Homo sapiens: one gene and its partners. The protein of the gene in region 6 purifies or fractionates together with the protein of the main gene of each other region. This does not show direct contact. Each region holds a gene or a part of one and is shown on either strand. Other genes may lie near its edges.

The links.
Region 1: the proteins of SAFB2 (region 6) and MVP purify together in Homo sapiens (co-immunoprecipitation; one large-scale study listed by IntAct). This does not show direct contact.
Region 2: the proteins of SAFB2 (region 6) and PACSIN2 fractionate together in Homo sapiens (co-fractionation; one large-scale study listed by BioGRID). This does not show direct contact.
Region 3: the proteins of SAFB2 (region 6) and RANBP3 fractionate together in Homo sapiens (co-fractionation; one large-scale study listed by BioGRID). This does not show direct contact.
Region 4: the proteins of SAFB2 (region 6) and HNRNPUL1 fractionate together in Homo sapiens (co-fractionation; one large-scale study listed by BioGRID). This does not show direct contact.
Region 5: the proteins of SAFB2 (region 6) and LARS2 purify together in Homo sapiens (co-immunoprecipitation; one large-scale study listed by IntAct). This does not show direct contact.

What each region holds. Positions count from the first base shown.
Region 1 is NC_000016.10:29,833,962-29,837,461, reverse strand, and holds part of MVP (major vault protein), read right to left. Parts: coding exon 3,396-3,500; intron 1,759-3,395; coding exon 1,664-1,758; intron 741-1,663; coding exon 504-740; intron 1-503. UniProt on the Homo sapiens protein: Required for normal vault structure. Vaults are multi-subunit structures that may act as scaffolds for proteins involved in signal transduction. Vaults may also play a role in nucleo-cytoplasmic transport.
Region 2 is NC_000022.11:43,008,650-43,012,149, forward strand, and holds part of PACSIN2 (protein kinase C and casein kinase substrate in neurons protein 2), read right to left. Parts: intron 1-3,500.
Region 3 is NC_000019.10:5,926,141-5,929,640, forward strand, and holds part of RANBP3 (ran-binding protein 3), read right to left. Parts: intron 1,948-3,500; coding exon 1,828-1,947; intron 1-1,827. UniProt on the Homo sapiens protein: Acts as a cofactor for XPO1/CRM1-mediated nuclear export, perhaps as export complex scaffolding protein. Bound to XPO1/CRM1, stabilizes the XPO1/CRM1-cargo interaction. In the absence of Ran-bound GTP prevents binding of XPO1/CRM1 to the nuclear pore complex.
Region 4 is NC_000019.10:41,274,372-41,277,871, reverse strand, and holds part of HNRNPUL1 (heterogeneous nuclear ribonucleoprotein U-like protein 1), read right to left. Parts: intron 1,714-3,500; coding exon 1,574-1,713; intron 1-1,573.
Region 5 is NC_000003.12:45,489,576-45,493,075, reverse strand, and holds part of LARS2 (leucine--tRNA ligase, mitochondrial), read right to left. Parts: intron 1,560-3,500; coding exon 1,276-1,559; intron 1-1,275.
Region 6 is NC_000019.10:5,589,138-5,591,776, forward strand, and holds part of SAFB2 (scaffold attachment factor B2), read right to left. Parts: coding exon 2,611-2,639; intron 1,272-2,610; coding exon 1,141-1,271; intron 1-1,140. UniProt on the Homo sapiens protein: Binds to scaffold/matrix attachment region (S/MAR) DNA. Can function as an estrogen receptor corepressor and can also inhibit cell proliferation.

The DNA of each region.
Region 1 (3,500 bases), on a different chromosome or scaffold from region 6:
TTTTATATTGTATTTTTACCTTACCTTTTCTATGGCTAGATACACAAGTACTTGCCATTGTGTTCAGCTGCCTGCAGTATTCAGGACAGTCACATGCTGCACAGGTTGGCAGCCTAGGGGCAGGCTACGCCATCTAGACTAGGTGCCATCTAGGTTTGCATAAGTGCACTCTTTTGCACAAAGACAAAATCATCTAAGGACTATTTCTCAGAATGTATCCCCATCATTAAGTGGCGCATGACTGTATCAGAGTTTCAGAGTCTCAGGCAGCGGGTAGCCAGGAGGCCTTCCCAGAAGGGGAATTAACTTCAGGTCTGAGGGGTAAGTCAGAGGCTGCCAGGAATCAAATGGGCCAGTGTCTCAGGTGTGTAAGAACTAAGCATGCAAAGGCACAGAAGGTGTTCCTAGAACGTGCGTCTGGAGGAGAGAAGGCAGAGGGCCTCATGCCACTAGAGGACATACATCTCCCAGGGCAGTCCTCTGTGGGGGTGTAGGGACCTCACCTTGACCACGCGCTTCTGCCCCAGCTGATTCTTGCCATCCGGTCCGACAGGGTCGAGAATCACGCAGTAGTTGTGGGGGCCCAGGGTGGTGATGGGCACAACCCCCAGCACCTCCTCGTGGACATCTGGCACGTGGGCCTCTGTGTCCTGCACTGTTACCAGCCACTCCTCCCCAGTGCGGCGGGACACTCCCCTGAAGTCCCGGAAGTTCCGCCGAGCCCGGAGGTGCAGGGCTGTCTGCAGAGCAACATGTTGGGTATTTGAGTGACCTGCCTCCAACTTCAGGGGATCTGCGAGCCCCATTGGCCACCAAATGCTCCCAATGCTCCCAGATCTCAGAGACAATTTCTACCAATCCAGGGATTGTTTTTTTTTTTTTTTAAATCGGAGTCTCTCTCTTGTTGCCCAGGCTAGAGTGCAAAGGTGCGATCTCAGCTCACTGCAACTTCCGCCTCCTAGGTTCAAGCGATTCTCCTGCCTCAGCCTCCTGAGTACAGCTGGGATTACAGGTGGGTGACACCATGCCCAGCTAATTTTTGTATTTTTAGTAGAGATGGGGTTTCGCCATGTTGGCCAGGTTTGTCTTGAACTCCTGACCTCAGGTGATCCTCCCACCTCAGCCTCCCAAAATGCTAGGATTACAGGCATGAGCCACTGCACCCGACCGGCTTTGTTTTTTTTTTTTTTTTTTGAGACAGGGTTTCGCTCTGTTGCCCAGGCTGGAGCACAGTGGCATGATCATGGCTCACTGTAACCTCTGCCTCTGGGGTTCAAGCGATTCTCCTGCCTCAGCGCCTCTGGAGTAACTGGAATTACAGGCATGCTCCACTACACCCAGCTAATTTTTAAATTTTTTGTAGCGATGAGTTCTCACTGTGTTGCCCAGGCTGGTCTCAGACTCCTGGCCTCAAGTGATCCTCCTGCCTCAGCCTTCCAAATTGCTGAGATTACAGATGTGAGTCATTGCGCCCAGCCCCAGAAAGACTATTTAACCCTTCAGATGATCCAGAATACTCAGGCAATCTGATCTCTGAATTTTTTTAAGTGACCCTAAAATTATTGCTTCTCTTTTACTCTCATGCCATTCTACCACCATTCTCTGCCACTCGGAGGGTTCCCTAGCCCCAGGTCCCTTAAACCACAGCCCCCAGAGCACCAACCTTTTCCGTAAGGATGACGGCGTCCACCAAATCCAGAACCTCCTCAAACACCGCTGGGAGGTACGCCCCTACTGTGGTGACCAGCCATTCTTCCCCTGGGCCAAGAGTGGAGGGTAAGGGACAAGGGCCCCCCAGCCTGCTCCCCACCTACCCCTCCCCCACAGCTTAGACACAGGGGATTGACAGATTTCATAGGCAAAAAGATAGCACTGACCCCAGGCTCAAGTTCCTGACTGCGGTCCTCTTATTCATTCTTTTGAGGCCAAACCCCCACCCCAGTTGAATTTTAAAAGTTTTTTTTTTTTTTTTTTTTTTTTTGAGACGGAGTCTCCCTCTGTTGCCCAGGCTGTGATCTCAGCTCACTGCAACCTCAGCCTCCTGGATTCAAGTGATTCTCATGCCTCAGCCTCCTGAGTAGCTGGGATTACAGGCACGTGCCACCACGCCCGGCTAATATTTGTATTTTTTGTAGAGATGGTGTTTCACCATGTTGCCCAAGCTAGTCTGGAACTCCTGGCCTCAAGTGATCCGCCCACCTTGGCCTCCTAAGATGCCCAAGTTGCTGCTATGCCAACAGCCTGTTCTGCCTTCTCTAAGCTCCAAAGACCAACTTTTGTCCTTCTGCTAAAACAGGCAGCAGAACTGCCTCTGTTAGAGTTGTGGATGTCCTTTGGTTTACTGGAGAAGCCAGAGTGCCTGGATGCAGGTCCCAGCCTCGCCCTGCCTGGCCACACCCCAGGGCAAGCAACCTGCATTCTGCATCCCAGTTTTGATATATAGAAAGTGGGAATGGCCGGGTGCGGTGGTTCACGCCTGTAATCCCAGCACTTTGGGAGGCCGAACCTGGTGGATCACGAGGTCAGGAGATCAAGACCACCCTGGCTAACATGGTGAAACCCTGTCTCTACTAAAAAAAAAAAAAAAAAAAATACAAAAAAAAAAAAAATTAGCTGGGCATGGTGGTGGGCGCCTGTAGTCCCAGCTACTCAGGAGGCTGAGGCAGGAGAATGGTGTGAACCCAGGAGGCGGAGCTTGCAGTGAGCCGAGATCGCGCCACTGCACTCCAACCTGGGCAACAGCAAGAAAGCAAGACTCCGTCTCAAAAAAAAAAAAAAAGTGGGAATGGTAGCACCTCGGGGTAGTACCTCTGTGGCCCAGGATGGAGTGCAGTGGTGCAGTCACAGCTCACTGCAGCCTCCACATCCTGGGCTCAAGAAATTCTCCCCCTTCAGCCTTCTGAGTAGCTGGGACCACAGGTGTGTGTCCAAGGCCAGGCTAATTTTTAAATTCTCTGTAGAGATGGGGTCTCACTGTGTTGCTCAGGCTGGTCTTAAGCTCCTGGGCTCAGACGATTCACCCACCTTGGCAAAGTGCTGGGATGACAGGTGTGAGCCACTGTACCTATTGGCCTACATTTGTCAATTGTATTTGAACATCTTCTTTGTTGATCCAGAATCAGGTAAGTCATGGCCACTGCCCACAGCTCATGGTGAAGGTGAGGGAAGGAAAAGCCACATCCGCATGGTCATGGTCACATTTTCCAGCCCAAGTGGAAACAGCATGAAGCGGGGGTGGGGAAGGAAGAGCAGTGGGTGGCCCTCAACAGCTTTCAAAAGATACCAGGAAAGCGCCTCTCTGGGGCTACAGGAGGCTTTCCTCAACCTTCCCCTGCTTCCCCTGCAGTGGGGACCCCTCCTGCCCACCCACCATCATCGCCCCTTGGTGACCCCACCTGTCACCCTCTCCTTGCCGTCCCGGTCCCAGCACTCCTTGCGGGCCCTGAGCCGCAGAGCCTGGTTCTGCCTGATGATGGTGGCCTGAATGATCTCCACGACCT
Region 2 (3,500 bases), on a different chromosome or scaffold from region 6:
AGCCAGAAGGCCACAAGCAGCCACTGTTGGACAGTCCTGGCCACTGGCACAATCCACACCCAACTTTCAAACCCACCCAGCGGCTCTGGGCCCAGGGAGGGGCCTCCTAGACTGCAGAAAGCATCTCATCTGTGAGGACATACTTGGATAGGACAAGTGAGACATTTGGAATTTTTACTTAACATTTATTTCACAACTTTCTCAAGTGCTAAGCAACTGAGAAGTAGTCATTTTAATGTACTCTTTCATCAATAAGCATTAAATAAGTCTGCTCAAAACACTCAAGCCCTACAAACTGTCCCTATGAAAAATGTGGCAAGAAAAAATAACAAAAACAAATAAGTAGCCTTTTCACATACAGAAAAGGTGTTTAGTGATCCAAATTCAGAGAGAAAAACAGTCCTTTCCGGCAGATGAACAAATAGTTTCCTCTACGAGTGACACATTCTGGGATATTTGAACTGCCAAACATAACTCATAATGACAACCACCAAGGAAGCAAAACCTAATGGAAAAGCCCCAGGATGGCAACCAGGAGCCCCAGTTCTGGTCCCAGGACGGCCTCTGGCTGTTTGCTCCATCAACGTGCTGACCAAGCCTGGCCCACTTTCTTCATCACAGGAAGGAATATCTATTGCCACCTGTACCACTCAGAAATGTTTTGAGGACAAAAGAATGAGAGGTGAAAGTGCTTTGGAATGTGCATCTTCTATAAATACAAGTCATCATTATTATTAGCTCAAAGATGACCAGGAAAATAGGATTACAGAATATCACAGGTGAGAGGGAGCTTAGAGATGGAATAATCCAGTTCTTAATCTGGGTCCACGCCTATGAAGCTGTCCCCCTTCGTGGGAAGGGGTCACAGTTGCTATCAGATTTGCAAAAGGTGAAGGTCCTCTAAGTCCTTCATTTTACAAATATGAAAACTGAGACCTGGAGTTCTGTGCTGATTGTCCCAGACCTCAGGGTTGGTCAGGGAAAGGCTGGACAAGAGCCCAAGGCTCCTAGTCTCCATCCACGCTCCTCCCCCTCTGTCATCTCATATTCTTGGGAGGAAAAATAATCATATAAATTTTATCTGGCCACAGAATATGTACTATAAACCACCACACATGCACTTTCCAAAGGTACAGCAAAATCTCTAGCCTTATTTATCATTTTTAAGGCTTCTTGCGAGGTCTTTGATAGTTGAGACATCATTTTATTTTTTCTATTTTTTTTTTTTTTTTTTTTTGAGACAGAGTCTTGCTCTGTCACCCAAGGCTGGAGTGCAGTGGCACAATCTCGGCTCACTGCAGCCTCTGCCTCCCGGGTTCTAGTGATTCTCCTGCCTCAGCCTCCCGAGTAGCTGAGATTATAGGCGCACGCCACCATACCCGACTAATTTTTGTATTTTCAGCAGAGATGGGGTTTCACCATGTTGGCCAGGCTGGTCTCGAACTCCTGACCTGAAGTGATCTGCTCCTTTACTTCCCATAGTGCTGGGATTACAGGTGTGAGCCACAGCGCCCAGCCCCATTTTATTATTTCTATATTCTCATCTCCGTCTAGTTCAGTGCCTAAAATCAAGAAACACGCAAATGATTTTTTTAGGATTGAAAATAGGCCAGGTGTGGTAGCTCACACCTGTAATCCTAGCACTTTGGGAACCCGAGATGGGAGGATCACTTGAGGCCAGGGGTTTGAGACCAGCCTGGCAAACATGGCGGAATCCCATCTCTGTTTAAAAATACATATATATATATATTTTTTTTTAATTGAAAATAAAAAAGACCGGCCAGGCACGGTGGCTCACGCCTGTAATCCCAGCACTTTGGGAGGCAGAGGCGGGCAGATCACGAAGGTCAGGAGATCAAGACCATCCTGGCTAACATAGTGAAACCCCGTCTCTACTAAAAATACAAAACATTAGCCAAGTGTGGCGGCGGGCGCCTGTAGTCCCAGCTACTTGGGAGGCTGAGGCAGGAGAATGGCATGAACTCGGGAGGCGCAGCCTGCAGTGAGCCAAGATCACACCACAGGGCACTTCCAGCCTGGGCAACAAAGCGAGACTCCGTCTCAACAACAACAACAACAAAAAAAGACAAGAAAGGAAAAGAAAAAAGACCTTATTCTAGGAAACAAGAAAGACTCTATGGTGCTTTAAGTTTTATTAAGCAAACAGATGAACATGCATTTATGGGAATAAGCACAATTCAATAGGTAACTTAAGGAAAGGTGGTTTTTATTTGTTTTATGTGTGCTTTTCATCAAAATGTCAAAACTTGTGCTCTTTGGTGGCCACTGTCCCTCAAGTAGTTACCTTTGGAACTGCAGAGATACCAAAAAATGATGTATTGTGCAGAATAATTTGAGAATTCTTTGAAGCCTGTCTCCAGTCCACAGACAGAGCATACTCATCTGAACACTAAAATTCTGCAGAAATTCCTACAAAACTATCCCAAGAACCACCACTGGGACGCATCTGGAGTCTGTCTGGGGCAGGGACGAATGATACTTTCTGGTATGTGAGGGATCAGTGCCCTGGCCATAAGGAAAGACTCTACCTGTGGAATGCAAACTGCCTTCGTAACTAAGGCATTGCTGCACTGCCCTCAGGTATGCAGCTACCATTCCAAACAACCTAACTGGAAAAAAACTAAGCCAGCACTATTGCTCACATGAATGTGGTCATTAATCGCATAATCTACAGGGCGGCCTCCACAAAGCTGCCATTACAATCTGATGGCAGATAAAGCAGGCCCGAGTCAGCTGGGAGGTTCACATGAAGGTGGCCAGAGAGCATCTGGTAAATGCCACTGCGAACTCTAAACACAAGGTGCCATCACTATTATTAAAGAAACTTTTCGATCTGTTTGATATTCCACAACATCCGGAATCATCCACTGATAACCCCTTCAGAATCAGTAAGCCTGAGCATGACGCCCTTAACACAGCACAGACTTTCAAGGTATAGAGAAGAAACAAAAGGCAAGGACATCTGCGAGGCCGAGGCGGGCAGATCACTGGAGGTCAGGAGTTCCAGATCAGCCTGGCCAACACTGTGAAACCCCATCTCTATTAAAAATACAAAAACTAACCAGGCAAGGTGGCAGGCGCCTGTAATCCCAGCACTTTGGGAAGCTGAGGTGGGCAGATCACCTGAGGTCAGGAGTTCCAGATCAGCCTGGCCAACATGGTAAAACCCCATCTCTATTAAAAATACAAAAACTAGCCAGGCAAGGTGGCAGGTGCCTGTAATCCCAGCACTTTGGGAGGCCAAGGCAGGTGGATCACAAGGTCAGGAAATCGAGACCATACTGGCCAACACGGTGAAATCCCGTCTCTACTATAAATACAAAAATTAGCCAGGCGTGGTGGTGGATGCCTGTAGTCCCAGTTACTCAGGAGGCTGAGGCAGGGGAATCACTTGAACCTGGGAGGCAGAGGTTACAGTGAGCTGAGATCGCACCACTGCCTCCAGCCCGGGCGACAGAGCGAGACTCTGTCTCAAAATA
Region 3 (3,500 bases), 340 kb from region 6:
CTATGCTGAGTCTGTCAAATGCACGATCTGCTTTAATCCTCACGAGGCCTGGGAGGGGGATGTTAGGGACCCTGTTTGACCAACAAGGAAGCAGAGGCTCAGAGGGTTAAGAAACCATGGCTCTGGCTGGGCGCGGTGGCTCGTGCCTGTAATACCAGCACTTTGGGAGGCTGAGGCGGCGGGGAATCACTTGAGGTCAGGAATTCGAGACCAGCCTGGCCAACATGGAGAAATCCCCACCTCTACTAAAAATACAAAAAATTAGCTGGATGTGGCAGTGGGCGCCTGTAATCCCAGATATTTGGGAGGCTGAGGCAGGAGAATCGCTTGAACCCAGGAGGTGGAGGTTGCAGTGAGCAGAGATCATGCCACTGCACTCCAGCCTGGGCGACACAGCAAGACTTCGTGTCCAAAGAAAAAAAAAGAATCCATGGCTCAAGTTTGCCCTGGAAGGAGAGGCTGGGATTTGACTGAGACTGCGAAGTGCACGTAAGCCTCTGACTTCTGCAAGAAGCCAACCCCACCAAATTCAAAGCAGCTGTCTCCCCAGACTCAAGGCAGAGATTCCACAGGGCCTGAACTCCACAGGCCAAGCCCTTCCCCGCCTCTTGCCCTCCCTCCTTGGAGGGAACAGCCCCTGAGGGACTCATTATTTTGCCTAAAGCCATGGCAACAGCAACATCAACTTTCCACGTTTCTCGACTTGGGCTTCTGTTGGACGGTGAGTAACAGAAAGGAAAGCAGAAAACACAAGCCGGTGCTTTCTGCATGCTAGAGAGGTTTTTGTTTATTTCAGGGCCCTCCCCGTCGACACTACTGACATGTTGACACTGGGCCCAGAACATTCCCTGTGGTGTGGCTATCCTGGGCACTGCAAGGGGCGGAGTGGCATCCCTGACCTCCAGAAGTACCTCCCAGTTGTGACAACCACAAAAGTCTCTAGACACAGCCACCGATACCGCCTCTCGAGCTTTGAAAGAAGCTTCTTGCCAGTGGAGCTGCTAGAGATGCCGTAGCACATTCCATGTCTGTGGCTGGGAAAGGTGGTGCTGGCTGACCCTGGTCTTCCTAGAGTCCCAGTGCATGGTCCAGGGCCACTGTTTCCAACCACTGCCATCCCTTCCCCACCACACAATCTCCAAACTAGGACCACATGTCTGGAGGGCAGCCAAGAGGTGGCAGACGCTTTGCTCCCTTTCAGGAGAGAAGACAGTGTTGTCACCCCACCCTGCCCCACTTAAAAAAAAATAAGGTGACAGTTCTTAATGGGGGCGATTCTACTCCACAGGGAATACTGGCCACGTCTGGGGACATTTGTGGTTGTCAGATGTCAGGAGCATTGGGTGGGTGGAGGCCAGTGATGCTGCTCAGCACCCTGCAGTGCCCAGGGCGACTCCTCAGAAACTAAGAATGGTCCAGCCGTAATGCTGCTAGTGCTGAAACAGAGAAACCCTGAAATACGGGAACAGAAACCTCTGGGCAGAGCTGAGAACACTGGACCGTGCTGTCTTTCTTCTCTGCTATGAAAGCCTGAGGCCTCAGGTTCAGTCACCTTCCCTGTCCCCGCTACCATGAGAACCAGGGACCCTGACTTGAGAAGTCACTGCAGGTGAGGGCTCCGAAGCCTGGGCTGCTGGTGGGGAAGTGCCAGGGCCCAGCACACGCACACCAGCAGCAGACTGTGCCGTGAGCCATGGGGCTGCCTCGCTAACACCTTCTTTGTCCCACGCTCCCCTCCCCTGTTAAAAGGAAAATCTACCTACTTGCCTGCTGTTGAACCTGGGGAAGGCATAAAAAGTCAATGTGCTGGTTCAACAGCTCACATACCTTAACTCTGTCCCTCAAGTTCTGCCCAAATACAAAGGCTTGCTGTGTGGCGGGGTCTTTTTTCTCACAGGCTTCCTCTTCAGAGGCATTGCTGGACTCATTTTTCTGGGGCTCTTTCTCCTATCAAAAACCAAAACAAAACAGAGTAATCAAAACCAGTGCCACACTTGGCCCAGACGGATGCCCAGCAATCCCACACCAGATCATGTACTCCACACGTCTCCTCTGCATGTGCCTGCACTCCCAGCTACTCAGAAGGCTGAGACAGGAGGACTGCTTGAGCCTGGGAGTTGTAGTGAGCTGAGATCACACCACTGCACTCCAGCCTGGGTGACAGAGCAAAAACCTGTCTCCAAACAACAAGAAACACCTGTGCCCTGCAGAAGCCTTAGTGCCGGCAGAGGACAGGAAATAACCTGGTTGCTCATCATTGGCCAAGGAATGAAATAATTTACAATAGAAAATATGGGGGAAAAAAAGTACAGCACAGCTATTACCACCGAGAGGGAGGTAGGCCTCTGACATGCCCACAATACATGGATCAGAGAAGAGAGCAGCTTGTGGGACACGGAAGTGCGATTCCATTTCTGTTAAAGCCAATCCAGTCCCGTGTGTGTGGTGTGTGTGTGTGTGTATGTGTGGTGTGTATGTGTGTTGAGGAATGCCCAGGAAAATAAGTCGGGAGAGAGAATTCAAACTACTGACGGAGGTTACCCGGGAACCTCTTAGCTGGAGGGTGGCTCCTGCTTGTTACTTTCTAGGATTTCCATTTTGTGTAAATATTTTCAACATGTAGGCATGACTTTTTTGTAACTAAATATCCTAAGACCAAATGCATTTATCTTGAGATAATGGAATATGGAGTTGCTAGTAATTTGTATATGTCTTTCCTATACCACATGATGAAAAAGGTGTTGTAGAATTTGAAAAGAAATTTTAAAAGGCTTTTGGCAGATCTTTGGAGTCTCTGGCGATGTGTACAGTGGACATGAACGTGAGGCAGGGAGTGTTTTCCTGGGAGATGTCGTGAAGGGACCTGACAACCGTGAACTCGGAGGTGAGAAAGGCTGCAGGCAGCTTCTGACTGGCTCAGCGTGTCCAGCGGGCAGGGAAGCCTGGAGTTACAATGCCAGGCCCAGAATCAGCGGATCACAGCGCTGAGGGCACTTTCTGGTCCAACTGTGAAGGAAGTGAAAAGTGTAAATGTTTCTCTACTGTGCTCCCTAGAAATTCTGCTACTGCTGACTTCACGCTGCATCCTTGTGCCTGTGCAAGAGTGAACGTGGCTTTTTAAAATTAAACACACAACGTGTTTGGCGACCTGGAAGTCCTCAGAGGATGGGCTAATCCCCAGCCCCACTGGGGCCGCCTGCATCCCGTCCAGCAGAAACACTCCCTGGCTCTTGGCTTTCTGCGCTGTGTGCCCCCTGCTCACACCGACTGGTGCTAATCCCGGGTGGGTGGAGCCCACAGAGTCACCTGAGATGGGGCAGGCAAACAGCAAAATGTTTCTGACTACAGGGTATGTCTATGACCTGGCGGAGCCTGCTTAGAGGATTCGCTTAAACTGATAAACGAATCCCGAGGCCTGTAACCAGTCTGAGACTCTGTGTGTGTGTGGGGCGGGAGGGGAAGCCTCTTCCCCACTTTCCCAAAGACGGTACCAGGAGTTC
Region 4 (3,500 bases), about 36 Mb from region 6:
CACATTTTAAAATCTCTGAAATCAGGATCCATTTTACAATAAATGTGATGAGAAAGCACTGCGTATGCTGGGTGCGGCAGCTCACGCCTGTAATCCCAGCACTTTGGGAGGCCAAGGCAGGCAGATCACCTGAGCTCAGGAGTTCAAGCCCAGCCTGATCAACATGGAGAAACCCCATCTCTACTAAAAATACAAAAATTAGCCGGGCAGGGTGGCACATGCCTGTAATCCCAGCTACTGGGGAGGCTGAGGCAGGATAATTGCTTGAACCCGGGAGGCAGAGGTTGCAGTGAGCCGAGATCGCGCCACTGCACTCCAGCCTGGACAACAAGAGTGAAACTCCATCTCAAAAACAAAAAAACAAACAAACAAAAAAAGAAAACACTGCGTAGTTTATTTTGTTGCAGTGTTTCTCTATGAGAGGTACATAAAATAATGCACAACTTACATCAATGGTGTCGTGGTCAATAAAATATAACCCTCTGTGTTTCAGCTTCTACCTCTAAAAACTGGGGCTAACAGTACCTGTTTCCAGATGGTACTGTGAGGATTAATGGAGATAATCCATGTAAAGAGCTTGGTGCTGTATCTTGTGCATGCAAAGAGCTCTATACTTATTAGCTATCATCAGTAAGTTTGGATACACAAACCACAGGTAAGAAATTGTTAACACAGAAGTTCCCTCCAGGGAGTAGGATGGTAGGATGGGAACTGAGAGGACATGAGAATAACCTGTTTTGTTTTTTTTGTTTTTGTTTTTTTGTTTTTTTTTTTTGAGACAGAGTCTCACTCTGTCACCCAGGCTGGAGTGCAGTGGCGTGATCTCGGCTCACTGCAACCTCTGCCTCTTGGGTTCAAGCAATTCTCTGCCTCAGCCTCCTGAATAGCTAGGATTGCAGGCACCCGCCACCATGCCCGGCTAATTTTTTTGTATTTTTAGTAGACAGGGTTTCACCATCTTGGCCAGTTTGGTATTGAACTCCTGACCTTGTGATCCACCTGCCTTGGCCTCCCAAAAGTGCTGGGATTACAGGCAAAAGCCACCACACCTGGCGAGAATAACCTGTTTTATCCTGTACTTTTCTGTGCTGTCTGAACTTTTGTTAAACATGAGCATCTATTATTTTCATAAACATAACTTGACATGGAACTGTGGAGAGATGACAGCAGAGGCTGGCCTAAGCTGGCAGTTCTTTGCCCTGTTCTCCCTCTGGCCTCCCTTTAATAAGTGACATCTGAGTCTATTCTTTCTAGATCACTTTTCTTCCAAACAACTTCTTTTCTCAGTTCTACAAACATGTCATCACTACACTGGTTGACTACATAATACCTGGGTCAAATCTCACCAAGGAAATATCTGCTTGATGAAGCAATGCATGGTTGGCCTGCTTTTCTGATATGATATTTAGCAATGATGTAGTTGTCTTGAGTTCATCACAGTTTTGTCTGCTTGGACATGGTATTGCACAATCCAATCTCTTTTGCAGTTGCAGCTCTGACCAAGGTGGCTGGTATCAGGATATTACAATGGATGGACTTCTCTGTCCCTTCCCCTTCTCTTGCTCCTACTCACCTTCATCTCGAAGCATACACGGCCCCTTCTGACCCCATAGCTGGCACGGGCTCCTGACCACAGGTATGCAAAGCCCTCAATTGTGAGCGGATAGCCACTACTCCGATCTCGGGCCACCTTGAAGTGGAGGTCGCAGTTATCTGTGAAGGAAAATGCCCACAGTTGGCTGATGTTTTTATTTTGTTTTGTTTTCTTGAGACGGAGTTTCACTCTTTTTGCCCAGGCTGGAGTGCAATGGTGCGATCTTGGCTCACCGCAACCTCCGCCTCCCGGGTTCAAGTGATTCTCTTGCCTCAGCTTCCTGAGTAGCTGGGATTACAGGCATGCACCACCACACCTGACTAATTTTGTATTTTTTAGTAGAGATAGGGTTTCTCCATGTTGGCCAGGCTGGTCTCGAACTCCCGACCTCAGGTGATCCACCTGCCTCGGCCTCCCAAACTGCTGGGATTACAGGCGTGAGCCACCACGCCCGGCCTGGCTGATGTTTTAGAAGTCCTAAGAAAGAAGCAGGCAGAGGGAACTTCCCCAAGTGCTGACCAGGAGTACACAGTGAACACATCATGGGGGCAGTTTCAAAAGGAACCAGCACACCCCTCAACCTCTCTCCCTTTGAGTAGGGAGGATGTGCAGTATTGCAAATTGGCCTGTATGACCTCAGAGAGGAACTGGGGTTCTTTATCTGGTGGGATCCAAGGATGGGGCTTCAGGGGTATCCTCAGAAATTGTCAACACATGTCTTTGGTGGGGATGTGTATTTGCTAGGGATAGGGTCCATATCCTCAGCAGTTTCAAATTAATTTTTTTTTTTGAGACAAGGTCTCGCTTTGTCACCCAGGCTGGAGTACGGAGGCATGATCTCGGCTCACTGCAACTTCTGTTCTCCTGCGCTTAAGCCATCCTCCCACCGCAGCCTCCTGAACAGCTGGGACTACAGGGATATGCCACCATGCCAGGGTGATTTTTATATTTTTCGTAGACAGGGTTTCGCCATGTTACCCAGGCTCAAACTAGTTTTTAGAATACAAAAAGGTTAATCACCACCACCATATATTCCTACCGCCCTCTGTGGTAATTCTATCAATTTGGGAACCGGACTTCTGTTTCCAATAGCTATACAGGGATCTGACCCTGATCCACACCTGCCACCCAGGAACCAATGCCCAGGTGCCCCATAGGCTCCTAATTCCTTTCATGGGCCTAGGACTCTCCTACTGTTGCTCTTACCCTTCTCAATATTCTCAATATTCAAGGAGCCAGTCACGCCTCCAAGAAAGCCTTTCCTGACCATCCCTCCCATGAGGCGCTCTCCTTTCTCTAAAGGCTGACCGTCATGATCTGTACATTTGCATTTCATCTAGACGCTGCCTCATGAACCACTGCCACCCAACACTTTTTAAACAATGTTTACCTCTACTCTGGGTAGATGTTGTTTTCGAGAGCTTGTGATATTAGAGATTGTGTATATTTTTATCTCTTACTAAAGCATGTAGCCAGTGCTTTATAAACAGAAGCTTCTGTAGAAATAGATGAATAAATTGCTGCTTATCTTCTGCTCTGTTGAGAAGTGCAGTGTTCTCAGACCTGATTGGGCTTCTGGGTGCATGTAAAAATTTAGATTCATAGGCTCGACCACTTAGACTCTTGACTAGGAGGTCTGAGCGAAAGGACCTTTATAATAATTCCTCCAAATGCTCAGATGCACAGTGAAGGTGAAAGCCACTTATCCAGTGGAAAGAAAACTGAACTGGAGGACAGACAGCAGGGCGGGCCAGGTTAGTGCCTCACAGGACACAGTGGCATTGGTTTCACCAGGAACTTGAGCAGCTGATGGAAACGGGAACTGGTTGTCAAAGAGTTAAGTTTCCCCAGCTGCACTCAGATTCCCTTCCTGATTAGATGACAACCCCTGTGTGTACAGGGCGGT
Region 5 (3,500 bases), on a different chromosome or scaffold from region 6:
GGCCTAGGTTCTGCCCTCCAGTAATTCTGCAGCCAAGCAGGAAACCTTATCCTCATCAATAAGGCCACAACTGCTGTGCTGTATGCAGGCCACCAACATCTCTGGTAGGGAAGCCCTTTGTCAGCGCTTATCAACAAAGAGGGTGTGCTATTTTCCTCCTGGAGCCAACATTTCTACCCTAAAATGGTCTGGGCCTTCCTATATACCTCCCTCCAAGTTCCACCTTGAATTTCAAAACTGCCTCAGTGAGGACCTGGGAGGATGGCTGGCAAGTCCCTGGCTGGATGGCCATAAAGTTTCTATTTATTGAAGGCCTAGAAGGTATCACTGTGCAGGATCACATGTGTTAATTCTAGTCTTCTGAAAAGCCCTTCAATGGGGTTATTTTTGTTCCTGATGAGGGATTTCACGCTCAGAGAAGGTAAATGACTTTCCCAAGGCTAGACAGTTAGTTAGGAGGCAGAGCCAGGACTTGAATCCATCACTGATTTGACACCCAGCTCAAGACTTCCAATTACACTACGTGGTTACCTAATTGTCAACCTAGTAACTCAGCTCTATACTGGCAGAATACAAAATTATTTTATAATATCCTCATCATGATCTATAAGGCAGAGAAAAATGGCTTCTCCGCAGAAGAAGGAAAATACTGGAACTTGGTATCTGCTATTTGTTTAATTAGCTGATATGGACAGCATCATTAAAAATCATGCTTGAGACATGCCAGTGAATAGACAGAAAAACATAATCCCACTTCCAAAATGAGGAGAAAGGAACCATGGTGCTTCAGCATATTAAAGAATGCAGCCCTGAGCACACTTGCTCTCTTAGCAACTACTCTGCTACTCATGATAAAATCTCCACTGTTGTTACAGTCACTATATTGGAAAACTGCAAGGTGGAGAAGAGAACATTTTCTCCCCTCTCCACGTGGCTCTTTGGAATATCAAAATGGAGGAAAGTGGTTTTTTACAAAGCTGTAAGGAAAATTTAGAGCTTTTCCATCAGTTGGATCAGATGTTTCTGGGATAGATCTGAACTGACACTGCTGCTTCCAACAGCTCAGAGAAGGGAGGATGCCCATTGCAGAGGCAGGGCCACAGATTCCAGACCCTTCTCTTAAAGGGCCCCAAAGACCCACAGTGTTCTTTCCAGCCTCATGGAAGTCAGGGAAAAAGGGAGCAGAGTTAGCACCAGGAGGGAGGAGGCTGTCTGAAGCCCTAGCAGGTATGGGGCCATAGGCACAGTCACCACTGCAGGGATGTGGCTCCTTACCTTGGGCAGGAGCAGTTCACCCACTCTGAAGCCATGGCCAGTGGGGGGCCTCCCTTGCCAGTGAAAGACGCGATGTTGGGCAGGGTCACAGGCAAGTCCTCCAGGGGCACAGGTGTGGGGCCACAGACTGGGCAGTGGACAATGGGGATTGGTGTGCCCCAGTACCGCTGCCGTGAAATCAGCCAGTCTTTCAGTTTATCACTTGTCACGTCTCCACCCACTCTCTTCCCCCGGGCTTTCTGAGTCAGGGCTAGAAAAGCATCCTGCCGGGTCATACCTGTGAACTGACAGGGAAAGAAAAGAAAGCTCACTCCTCTCCGCATAGCACCAGTCACCACCCTGATGCTGCCACCAGTCCTGCCATGTTTATGTGTGGCTCTCCCAAGGGACCAGTTCTGTGCAGAGCTGTGTCATAACTTTCATGAGCCCTAGGTGCTTCTGCCTTTGTAGGCTCCTTGCTCCTTCAGATAATATTAAAAATTATATTTTACAACTGCATCAATATAAAGACAAATATAACTTTTGACCCTAAAAGTTCATTTTTTTCTTCTGATTTTAAAAGAAATTAAAACTTTTGCAGAGGCCTCTAAAAGTATTGTGGGCCCTAGGCACTGTGTCTACTGTGTCTAATGTGTCTAAGTTGGCCCTGGTTCTGTGGCTTGCTTTATCACCAGAGCCCTGTGACACCTACAGAGATCATCAAATATCAGCTTTTAGCTGCCAGTACAGAACTGCACGATATGGATTTTTAATGACTACTCCCCTGTTGGGGGGAAAATATTCAGAAAAGAAAAATCCAATATTATCCTAAAGCAGAAGGAATTCAGGCAAGCAGAGGAACATTCTGAGGCTTCGGCTTGAAGAACCAGACCACTCTTTTTATATTTAAATGCTCCCGTTTTATAGACAGCAGGACAGACCACTAACAGTACAAAAGAGAAATTATCTTTTCACTTGGTGCTTTTCAGAGAGCCAAACTAATTATATGAATTGAGCCAGTGTGGCTTGGTAACAACCTGGATTGCGGGTACCCTCGCATTTGTTCAGTGAAGACCCACTGGGCATCTATACGTGCTGGGCTCGTGCTAGCCATTGGGGCCACAAAGATAAATATGATCTTCCCATGTCCTCAAGGAGCTTACAGTCAAGAGGCATAAAGAATAAGAAAATACAGCTATGTTTATCAAAAGCAGCCCTTTTCATGAATGGTCTGAAGTGTCTTTCTGCACTCCCATTATCACAGTCGTGATGCAAATCATAAAAAGCTCTCCTGAAAGTCAGTCTTCTCCTAACACCACTGTCTTTCCATTCCAGAAGCTCATAGATGAAAGCGGCTTTTCCCCAGCCATTCTCCTTCTACTTATTGAAATAATTATTTTACTCTAGATATTCAGCCTAGAGCCAGGAGAGGCTTCAACAGACCATCTGAAGCTGTGTGAAAGAAGCCAGGAAGCATAATTAATGCTCAGAGTACTGTACTAAAGAGTGGATGCTTCACTAGGCACTTCAGAAGCCTAATTTTGGCCACAAGTGTCCCCTTTCTTGCCCTGTAGAGGGTTAACTGGGGCTCCTTACAGACACTGTGATTTCGCTCTGCTCTACCTCCAGGAAACCTGCTCAAACAAGGTCTAAAAAAAGGCCTAAGGGTCCATATCTTAGAGCATGACTCATGTCTGGGGATGCAGTTTATGAAGTAAAGCCACAAACATGGGGTTATAAAACATGGACTCCTTACAAAGGAGAAAACCTGACCATTATTCCTTTATTCTATAGATATAAATATAGCCAGATAGTCACAAACCTGAAAAACTTGGATCTTCAGGTCTCACTGAATCAAGATCAGCCAAGATGGGACCTGTAAGCACCTCCCAGGTGATTCAGAGCCATGGCCAGGTGTGGCATCACTATGTTAAGTCAGTAGTTCCCAGACTCTGCTGCACATCAGAATCAACTAGGGAGCTCTGAACACTATTGATGTCTGATCCATGCCCCCCTCACCACCAATAACCATCAAATCGGAGTATCTGGAGTGAGACCCAGGCATCAGTATTATTTTAAAACTCTCAGGTGTTTCCAATGTGCAGTTAAGTTTAAGAGTGCTCTAAGCCAGTATTCTCAAACTTCTAATGTGCATACAAATCATATAGGGATCTTATTAGACTAGGGTGGGATCTAAGACACGTGATGCCAGTACTGCTGGTCCAGGGACCAGACATTAAGTGGCA
Region 6 (2,639 bases):
AAGCTCCCGTGTGGAACCTGCCCTCGGTGACCCGATGGCGCCCAGCCGCTGCTCACCATGGGTGAGTTTCCCGTTTACACTCCCGAGGTATTTACCATAACACCCAGCAAGCGACAGGACAGGAATGCTAATGAAGTCTCACAGGAGAGAACACTTCACACCAACTGATCAGAGCACTGCCACCGTCTGTGCTGCCCAGAGATTCAGGAGAAGCTTCGGGTGTCCTGGGACACTCGGCACAGCACCGAGTCAAAGTCCCTGGCAGAGCTGGAAGTGCCTCTCAGCGCGGAGGGAGGGATGGAACGGGGGAGCACAGGGGGCCAAAACCCACCCTGTGGCGCTGGGCAGGGTCCGAGGCAGCCCTGGGCCAGGGCTGGAGACAAGACAGGACACTCGGCTCACAGAGGAAAGCAGGGCAGCAGCCGCAAAGCAGTCCTGCCACCAGCCTCCTCACGGCCAGCCCAGACGGCAACAGGACAAACAGGCAGGGGTGACTGCAGCTGGCCAAAGAAACTAGAGAGGCACCCAGAGTCCTCCCAGACAAGCCCTGCCCCCCACCAATGCTGACAAGGCTCAGAACAGCACCCCCACTGCAGTGCTGGTGAAGGTGGCTTTGGACACCTGTGGAGGACCTGGCCCAGTGTCCTCAGCCCTGAGTCCTGGGTGGAGGGTCCTCCTAAGTGATTCTAATAGGCAGGATAGGGTTGAGAAGATCCACCCCAGACCAACTGGGGGTCAGAGAAAAAACCCGAGGAAGACACGTGTCAAGAGGCAACGTGGAGGCAGGGGCGAGGCTGCTCTACCACGGACGGGGCAGGACTAAGAGCTTCAGCGCTGTCTCTCCCAGTGTGTACGCAGCCCATGATCGAGACATTCACAACTGCAGGCGACCCCCAGCTCAAGAATGGGGATGGGCCATTCTGGGCGACCTGGACAGCTCCATCCCTGAAAGCCTGTTCTATGCTTTCTTCTTGAGAACCTGGACTTTCTGAGTCAGGGGTTTCAAATGGCAGGACCCCTGGTAGCCCATCCTAAAGCTCCCCTAGCTGAATCAAACCTTGGGGACGTGCCTGGCCAGGCACCAACCTTTTCCCAGGTTAGGACAGATGCTCCCCACCCGGCTGGGGCTCACCCACTAACCTGGGGGGAGGGGGCAGCCCCCGGCCTTCACTCAGCCTCTTGTCGGAGCCGTAGCCCCCCCAGCCATCACGGGAGTCCCGGCCGTGGCGCTCTGGGGGTCCTCCGTGGCCATGGCGGTCATCTCCATAGTGCTGGAAGGCAGGAGAGGAACAGGGTGACACTGACCATGTCACCCACATAGGCCCACCTTCCGGAAGGCCTGTCCACTGCAGGCCCCAGGGTGGCAGGTGGGGCGGAGCTGAGAGAGGACTGAAGGGTGCAGTCTCAGCCCTGCTGGGCCCTGCTTCACTGACCCTCTGCTCCCTGGCTCCCCTCCTCGCACCCCTACAGCTGCATCACTGCCCCACCTGAGCTGCCCCAGGAGCCAGGGCACCCTGGCATTACTGCCCTCAACAGCTCTGCTCAAGATCCACTAAGACGTCACCAAACCCTGTCTTCCCTGAGAAGTTGGGCGCCGCCTCCTTTCCGATAACAGGAGGGCCCTCGGGTGGGTCAGCCCCCCTGTGCTCTGGCAGGGCCACAATTCCGGCCTCCCTGGCCAACCAACTCTGCACGGAGCAGCCAGCAGCCAGGAAGCAGGCGGGTGCTGCCTGCTGTTACAGGCCATTACTCTGCCGCCCACCTCCCACCTCTCCACCAGGCTGCTGCTTTCTCAGAACTCACACCCTGCCACCACGCACGGGGCACCCGCATGGCACCACAGAGACTCAGGGACCATTCTTGTGGTCTTCAGCCCCCCGTGCCCACCAAGCACGGACTTGAAACATGGGGAAGCCCGGGCTCCCCCATCCCCCCGACCCTGGCACATGTGGGCTAAACGACAACCACCATTTGGGTTCTTGGGGGACCCCACAGGCACTAAGACCCAAAGGCTCCCTGAGCAAGTGGACAATGAAGAGACACATGAGGTTTCTACCGGATACAATGAAGAACAAGCCCAACATATTTGAAAATGACAGAAACTTGAGCATTACAAAACAATCAAATATTTGCGCTTTTTTTTTTTTTTTTTTTTTTTGAGACGGAGTCTTGCTCTTGTTGCCCAGGCTGGAGTGCAATGGTGCGACCTCGACTCACTGCAACCTCCGCCTCCCGGGTTCAAGCGATTCTCCTGCCTCAGCCTCCCGAGTAGCTGGGACTACAGGCACTCGCCACCATGCCTGGCTAATTTTTTGTATTTTTAGTAGAGACAGGGTTTCACCATGTCGGCCAGGCTGGTCTTGAACTCCTGACCTTGTGATCCACCCACCTCAGCTTCCCAAAGTGCTGGGATTACAGGCATGAGCCACCACGTCCGACTAAATATTTGTACTTCTAGTCGCTGGCCAGAACCCACACTTGCATACCCGCCACACGTGCTGACTTGGTTGCCACCTCTCTGGGATCAAGCGGCCGCCTGGCTAGAAATGGTCCGCTATGCCTGCACAGCAGTACAGTGGCCCCAGGGCTTGGCATCGGGGCTCTACTCACCTGCCCATCCCGGTGGTCTCCCATCATTG